Homo sapiens: one gene and its partner. The protein of the gene in region 1 purifies or fractionates together with the protein of each later gene. This does not show direct contact. Each region holds a gene or a part of one and is shown on either strand. Other genes may lie near its edges.

Region 1 (4,746 bases):
TAGAGGCACATCTCTCAGCAAACACAAACCAATTGGACAATTTAAACTAGCACTATTCAACCATAATGAACTCTGGTTGAAAAACAGTCTGTCCCTACTTGCATATTGTAGTGAGATGAGATTCCACTCTTCATGTCAGAATGGCACTTACATGAGTCAAAGTGTCTAAATGAAATAATTTAAATGGAACAAAGTCAAATACTTACATTTTATTTTTAAATTCTCCTCTATTTGCAGTTATACTTTAAAGTGTACTCCCTTCTCTATCCTATCATGAGGACTGGACAGCCTCCACAGAGATGGCTGGACAAAGCAAGGGAATTTACTTAGGTAAGACACCATTTCTCTTTACTCTGAAATCCCTGCAAATGTAGTTATTCCAGAGGAGACTGTGCAATGACTGATGGGTTTAGCATCCTACATGAGGGGAAATTGCCATTCCCAGCTGTAAAATGAACAAATATCCAGTTATTTTTTTTAGCCATCTTACAGCTTAGCTAATATAACAGGATTTACAGCCAATTATACATGAAAGTTTAATTCTGTGTCAGATAAAGCATATCTTTGATGCAGAAATAGAGGCAGCATTAGGCCTTACCTGGTTAAAAGCTTTTTGCTTTCTATTCATTCATTCGTTCATTCATTCATTCAAACCTATACTTACTGAATGCTCACTAAATGCCGGGGGTTTATTAAGAGAGATTTAAATAAGATGGGATCTTTGACTATTACAGGTTTCAGCCTAGGGGTAAATTAGGGGAAGACAACCATGTATTCAAATAAATGTAATTAAGAGTAATGGTTGTGTGTGTATTTTACATGCTTGTCCTGTGTAAATAACACGTCCACGGTTGCACCTCTGGGGTGGAACATCTATAAAATTTAGATAATGATACCCACTTTGCATGGCTATTGTAATGAATGCTCTTATACATTTGCTATTTATTAAATAACTATAATTTCTCATCTTTCTGTTCCCACTGCCCTTAAGAGTGATTTGCATATTTAACTCAATAAGCATCTACTGAAATGAGTTGATCTGTTGATGTAAGTCTGCTCAATATGGTCTTGCTCTCAGAATATGTTTCTTGCCTTTTTGATGCTTTAGAAGGCTTTCAAGGTAAGTCAAGCAGGGAACCTGGTGGGTAGATGAGGGAATTTTCAAACACACAACTGTCTGATTTAGGATCCTACATGGACTTGGTATATAGTGTCACTTACTTGTAAATCAGATTTTTAAAATTGGAAGCAACTCTGTGATCATCTAGTCCATCTAGTCTACACCCTTCCTTTTACAAATGAAGAATCCAAGAGCCAGAAGCTCCCAGACATCCTGACTCAATGTCCTATATTTGTTGTATAGCCTCCTTTGTGGAAGTTATGTATGCATTTGACTTCACTTAATCTAAGACATCTATTTTCCTTGAACTCTTGATAGGTCTGCTGGTTTCCTCAAGGGAATCCAATCTAGCTGGATTTTAATCTCTTTGAATTGTGTCCTCAGCTATAAAAGTTTTAGCTGAGGTTTTAATGGCTGCACTTAAGTAAATCTAACAGATATACCAGGGGGTGTTCCAATTACATACACCATTAAAGGGCTTTATGTGAGGATTTTTAAAAATTACCATTAAAAAAAAAAAAGCATAGTCCATTTGCAGTATAATTTACCAGCAGGAAAGATTTCAATGTCCTGGAAAAATTCCCTATAAAAAGGAAGATAGGAAAACAGAAAAGTCACAGTACTCAACCTACTTCAAGGGAAGATTGGGATCTTTTTGGCTCTCTGCCTCTAAACAGGTAAAAGGCTTTGTATTATTTCTAGCACGAGTTTTTCTTCTTTAGATTGCATGCTATTGTATGTCTACAGGGCATTTGACAGCCCAAGGGCTAAATCCAGGTGTGACGGTATCTAATGATGTCCTGTCCTTCACTGTCCTTGCCATCACCAGCCACAGAGATCCAGGCTTTGGGGACTCCCACAGCTTATCGACCAGTGTTTGATTTAGTTTTTAGCCTCTTTCCCATCAAATGAAAATTAACTTGGAGACACATTTCATTAGAAAATTAGAGGCCCCCTTGGCTAGGAAGGCATCTGGTCTGGGACTAACTACTTTGAACAGTGTTGAGTCCTCTCTCCCACAGATGGTTCAGCCAGCAGTAATGCTAGGAAGACTGAAGGATAAATAGAAAAATGTCATTAGTACCATGGGGTAGCCATGTAATGTCAAGCAATTTTATATTAGCCAGAGATTCCTAGTAGGAGCTACTTTTCTTAACAGATGACTCAGTTCTCTTTATCTCAGGAATGAAAGAGTTGAAGACCAATCCACAACAGGGGAAATGTTAAGGCAAAATGATGAACTTGATAAGGGATGAATTATGGGGTTTGGATAACCAAACAATAAAAATAAAAGTATAGACTATTTTAGTACTAAAAAGGTCCTGAACATGTGAGCTTAAGTACTCATTTTGTCCCCAGTGGCTAAGAAACTAAAGGCAAGCCAGCAAGTGTCTCTGAGTTTCAGTGTCTGTATGTAAAAACTGACTCTGACTTCCATCTTCTGCAGGGTTAGTGATACAGATGCTAGCTTTTTCACTAAAGAGGTCTTTTAGTTTATACTCAACCTTGTCTGGATCTAATTTGATTGTGCATTCATGTGCCTTAGAATGAAGCCAATTCAAAAACTCCTAGCTGGCCTTATTCTACTGACTTGGTGCGTGGAAGGCTGCTCCAGCCAGCACTGGTCCTATGGACTGCGCCCTGGAGGAAAGAGAGATGCCGAAAATTTGATTGATTCTTTCCAAGAGGTAAGTTTCTCTCAGCTTCAAAATAAGACATAGTGATTTTATTCAATTTAACTATATTAAACATTCAGGATAGCCCCAATGTCAATATTCTATGATGTTGTACCCTAGATGCTCCAGGTGAGATAAGGCACTTACAAAGTAGAAGTCCCATTCCTACTTTCAGTTCACACAGGGACTAAACAAAGAGCTGGAAAAATTCCAAAAGAATATATTAATAGCAACAAGTGTGAGACAGCACGTCATACTCTGAGTGTATGGGATTGCTAAAGGAATTAGAAACAATGGGATAGGGTCAAGGTCTGTATCAGAAGATGATTCTTTGGGATTTGGAAAAAACGTTAGAACTTCGTTTTTTTTTTCCTCATTTCATCTTTTAAACATATCTATGCTATTAGATCAGTACATTTTTATAATTTATAAATGAGTATCCTTATCAAGGATGCATGCCCTATAATTTCTTTTCACTGATAGGGGCATTTAAGCAAAGTTGGAGACTGGTAGAATACAGGAATTAGCAAACTCAAGATGATAAGATAACGTAGTAGAAAACATGCTGATTTAAATTCATATAGATTAGATTATAGGACTGGCACCAACACTAACGTGAGGTACTTGCTTTCTTGTTTTTTGGGGTTATTTTCTAAGACAGGGTCTCGCTGTGTTATCTAGGCTGGAATTTAGTGGCACGATCACAGCTCACTGCAGCCTTGACTTCTTGGGCTCAAGTGATCCTCCCACCTCAGCCGTCTGCATAGCTGGGACCACAGGCATGCACTATCACACCCAACTAATTTTTAAAACTTTTTATAGAGATGGGGTTTCCCTATGTTGCCCAGGCTGGTCTCAAACTCCTGGGCTCAAGGGATCCTCCCACCTTGGCCTCCCAAAGTGCCGGGAGGATTTTTGTTTATAAAATATGACCACTCATCAGGGTCATGTAAGGAAAGAAGCCATCTATGTTAGCTGATTAACCTGAAAAATAACCTAGGACTGAGAATGGGAAAAATTTTAAATCATTTCATTATCATTGGAAGGAATTATCTCTTTTCTGAGAAATAATAAAGATAATTTAGTATTAAAGAAGACCCAGAATCTGAAGCCTCTTCTCTGCAGGTTATACATGAAGCAAATCTCATTGAACTATAACATATTTAGTAAAACCTAGAAAATAAAAACCAACCTTTTTTTACAACTATAAACTCTTGGGGGTTTTTTGCTTTTTGTTTTTTTGGGTATACTGACTCTCATGAGGCTCAAAGTGCCTCCCTCTTTTCATCTTTAAGGGGAAAATATGATATCTTCTTACTGTCTCCATTATCTCCAGATCCCCATGCCATTCAGTAGAAATGTCAGATGGCAGATCTGTGTCCTTAAAGTCCCTATGCTAATCCTGCAACTTTCCCAATCTCCCCCAGCCCCACATCCCCCTTGACCCCACTCTCCACAATTTTTTGGTGGAAATGGAAAACACCATTTCATTTCTTTATCTCCATCTCAAAGCATCACATTCTCTTTCTTCAGATAGTCAAAGAGGTTGGTCAACTGGCAGAAACCCAACGCTTCGAATGCACCACGCACCAGCCACGTTCTCCCCTCCGAGACCTGAAAGGAGCTCTGGTAAGTTAAAGTGATCATAACATGATCACAGCATAGAGCTCTAGAGGTGGATAAGCCTTTGGGGATCACTTAGGACAGCTACCTCCCAGATACTGTGGGGCTTACATTCCTGACTCCTCTGTTACCTCCTGTGGTAGGACCGTGTTTCATGACAATCCCAGTTGGTGGTTAGACAGCACTAGGGGCTGAAACGTTTTTTTGTTTGTTTGTTTTTTCTGAAGTTGAATTGAAATCTCTCTGTAACTTTTATCTCTTAATCCTGGTTCTAGCTTTTGGGATAACTAACAAAACAAATTTCTTCCCACTGCTGCATTTCATTTC
Region 2 (3,500 bases), on another chromosome or scaffold:
ACTTTGGGAGGCTGAGGTGGGCGGATCACCTGAGGTCAAGAGTTCGAGACAAGCCTGGCCAATGTGGAGAAACCCCATCTCTACTAAAAATACAAAAATTAGCTGGGCGTGGTGGTGGGCGCTTGTCATCCCAGCTACTCGGGAGGCTGAGGCAGGAGAATCACTTGAACCCCAGAGGGGGAGGTTGCAGTGAGCCAAGATCATGCCACTGCACTCCAGCCTGGGTGACAAGAGTGAAACTCCGTCTCCGTCTCAAAAAAAAAAAAAAAAGTCTTTTATACTCCATCTCAGCATTCTAAGCACCGCATCATGAAATACCCCTCAGTTGGGGTGTAGGGTAAAGAGGTCCCAAGTTAGGAAGGGGCACGTGCACATGTCCTTAGTTCTCTCCGGCGTGCTTTGAAATGGAAGCAAGGTGGCAGACCTTTGAAGTTTTTGGGTTTCTTTTATGGTACCATGTTTCTCACCAGATGCAGCTTCCTGCAGGTCTAAGGCCATTATTCAAAACAACAAAAGCTCATCCTGTTTTGGCATAATGGAATTTGAATACACTGTAATAAAGTCTATTCTCAGTCTGCACAAGAGGAAACAAAATTGGTACCTTGATTTTTTTTTTTTTGTAGGGAATAAACTGGTTAAAAATGGATGTGTGTGTTTTTTAAACACAATCCTATTGCTCTTTTTCCTAAATTCTTGTTTGGGCCTCTGAGTCTCCTTCACGACCAAAAGCAGACAAGACAGTTACAGTCCAAGGGTCCCTGCCTTGCACAGGATTAGGATATTTCTGGCCTCCTAAGAGTTCACGAATTACCATATTGGGTCAAAACCAGGGCTCAGTGAACCAACTAGACATTCTGGTCATCCACCCAAAAGATCAGGATTATGTCTGTAAAATATCTATAATGGTGCTATCATTGTGACTTTGCTGAAAACAACTCCAAAACGACTCATATTTTGTTTCTATCACCTCTTAATGGAACAGATTCCAGAAGCTTTCTATTGCTGCTTAGAACAAACATCTCTATACACTATCAAAGGGGCTTGCTCTAAATTTGGTCAAGTTCCCTGATGAGCTGATCCTTGAGCACCGTGCTCCCAGCCTTCATGTGCCATCATGGGCCGGCCTCCTGAGTGTGTCCTCCCCTAAGGTGACCCACATCTCTGCCCCCCGGGTGTCCCTATCCCTGCTCTCCAGTGTAGCCTGCCCTTATTTTCACAGTCAGATTGGCCACTGTCTTAGTTTCCTATTGCCCTTGTGACAAGTTACACATACTTAGTGGCTTAAAACAACACTTTTTTTTTTTGAGAGTCTCGCTCCGTTGTCCGGGCTGGAGAGCAGTGGTGAGATCACAGTTCACTGCAGCCTTGAACTCCTGGGCTCAAGTGATCCTCCCACCTCAGCCTCCTGAGTAGCTGGGACTACAGGTGTGCGCCATCCTGTCTGGCTAATTTTTAAATTTTTTGTAGAGACAAAGGTTTCATCATGTTGCCCAGGCTGATCTTGGACTCCTGGGTTCAAGCAATCCTCCTGCCTTGGCCTCCCAAAGTGCTGAGATTACAGGCACAAGCCACCATGCCCAATTTTTTTTTTTTAAGGCAAGAAATAAATTTTATTGAAGGATTTTTCACCATCCATAGAGATTATCATATGATTGTTTTTCTTAGAATTTTTAATGCATACATTTTTTGGATTTTCTAACTTCAAATTCCCTAATTTCTTCCATTTCTGAAATAAACCGTACTTGATTAAAGTGCATGTTTTATTTTTTAATTTTTATTTAAGTTCTGGGATACATGTGCAGAATATGCAGGTTTGTTACATAGGTATCCATGTGTCATGCTGGTTTGCTGCACCTACCAACCCGTCACCTAGGTTTTAAGCCCCGCATGCATTAGCTATTTGTCCTGATGCTCTCCCTCCCCTCGCTCCCCGGCTCTGACAGGCGCTGGTGTGTGATGTTCCCCTCCCTGTGTCCATGTGTTCTCACTATTCAACTCCCACTTATGACAACATGCGGTGTTTGGTTTTCTGTTGCTGTGTTAGTTTGCTGAGGATGATGCCAGCCAAAATTTTTTATCTTACTGGTCAGAAGTCTATAATGGGTCAGCAGAGCTGTGCTTCTTCAGGATGCTCTAGAGGAGAATCCTTTTCCTTGCCTTTTCCAGCACCTAGAGGCTGCCCGCATTCCTTGGCTCATGGCCACATCACTCTGACCTCTGCTTCCATCATCCATCTCTTCCTCTCACTCTGACCTTCCTGCCTCCCCTTTACAAAGGTCTTTGTGATTACATGAGGCACACCCAGGTAATCCAGGATATTCTCTCCACCCTCAAGCCCTTAACTTAATCACATCTACAAATCCCTTTTGCTACATAAGGCCTGGGGATTAGGATGTGGACATATTTGGGGGGTTATTACTCAGCTGACCATACCATACAACATTTTCTAGGAAAAACCATAGGACATATTTTTTACTTAGCTACAGGCAACTTCCTGAAGACCCCCAGCAGCAGTCTCAGTTGGCTACTCCATCTCTTTCCTGGGCTGAAGCCACCTGGTTAGGACTCATAGCCCAGTAAACACATATGGTATCACCTTGTACCCACTCTCAGAGCACAGAAACCACCTGGTACAAAAGATGATTCCTATGACAAACACATGTATATCTCAACTTACATTTTGCCTGCTGAGGGACAAATTCCTGTAAGAAAACTCCAAGGGCCCAACCAAATTCCAGCAGAAAAATGTCATGACCTGGAACTTTAAGTAGAACCTCTTTGAAGAGGTTGCCCTTAAAGCGAACCAGGTCACAAAAGCTCTGGCCTGGCTTTAGAATTTAGAACTTTTGAATGACACACATGAGAATAACCAAGTTAGCTGTATGGATGGCTATGAGGGGTGCACACAGCCCGTTCACCAACTGAGGAATGGAGAACTCGAAGGGAGGAACGGAGACTCGGCCAAGCCTCAGCACTCACAGCGGCAGGGTGGATGAGTTCTAATAAGGGTAGTTTCCTGTGACAGTCCGGAATCTGGAACTAGGCATCAGGTGAGAGTGCCCTGGAGTGGAGTGGGCTGGGGGAAGAGGATGGGGCTTGCTGGTGGTGTAGGTGTGGGTGTGGCAGCCAGGTCTCCAGTGGCTGCAGGATCCTGCCCTCAGCCCAAATGGCTCCTGCATGAAAAGCTGCGGTGGATCTAAGTGGCAGCTAGGAGTCAAGGCAACTAGCTTCCTCCGAAGCGAGGCAAGACAAGGCACAGCCGAGAAGCCACTCAACCTCTGTTCCCAATGAATCCATTTCCATGTCCCTGCTTCGCTGTACGACACCCCACACCCTGATGTGCATCTTGTGAAAAATCAAGATGAAAATAAAAGGTCAGGAGAAAACTCTGTGGAGACTGTTGTCAATGTAGTCAAACTGACTCTGATATAGACACCTTCCGCATTCTGCACTTACTCATGCAATTTCATTTACTTTTTAGAGAGAAAGGACATTTTCAC

What was found.
Region 2: the proteins of GNRH1 (region 1) and EMC8 purify together in Homo sapiens (affinity purification with mass spectrometry; one large-scale study listed by BioGRID and IntAct). This does not show direct contact.

What each region holds. Positions count from the first base shown.
Region 1 is NC_000008.11:25,421,252-25,425,997, reverse strand, and holds the start of GNRH1 (progonadoliberin-1 isoform 2 preproprotein), read left to right. Parts: upstream 1-1,736; 5' UTR 1,737-1,797; exon of another isoform or gene 1,798-2,655; coding exon of another isoform or gene 2,656-2,667; coding exon 2,668-2,808; intron 2,809-4,329; coding exon 4,330-4,425; intron 4,426-4,746. UniProt on the Homo sapiens protein: Stimulates the secretion of gonadotropins; it stimulates the secretion of both luteinizing and follicle-stimulating hormones.
Region 2 is NC_000016.10:85,789,545-85,793,044, forward strand, and holds part of EMC8 (ER membrane protein complex subunit 8), read right to left. Parts: intron 3,390-3,500; exon of another isoform or gene 2,753-3,389; coding exon of another isoform or gene 2,678-2,752; intron 1-2,677. UniProt on the Homo sapiens protein: Part of the endoplasmic reticulum membrane protein complex (EMC) that enables the energy-independent insertion into endoplasmic reticulum membranes of newly synthesized membrane proteins.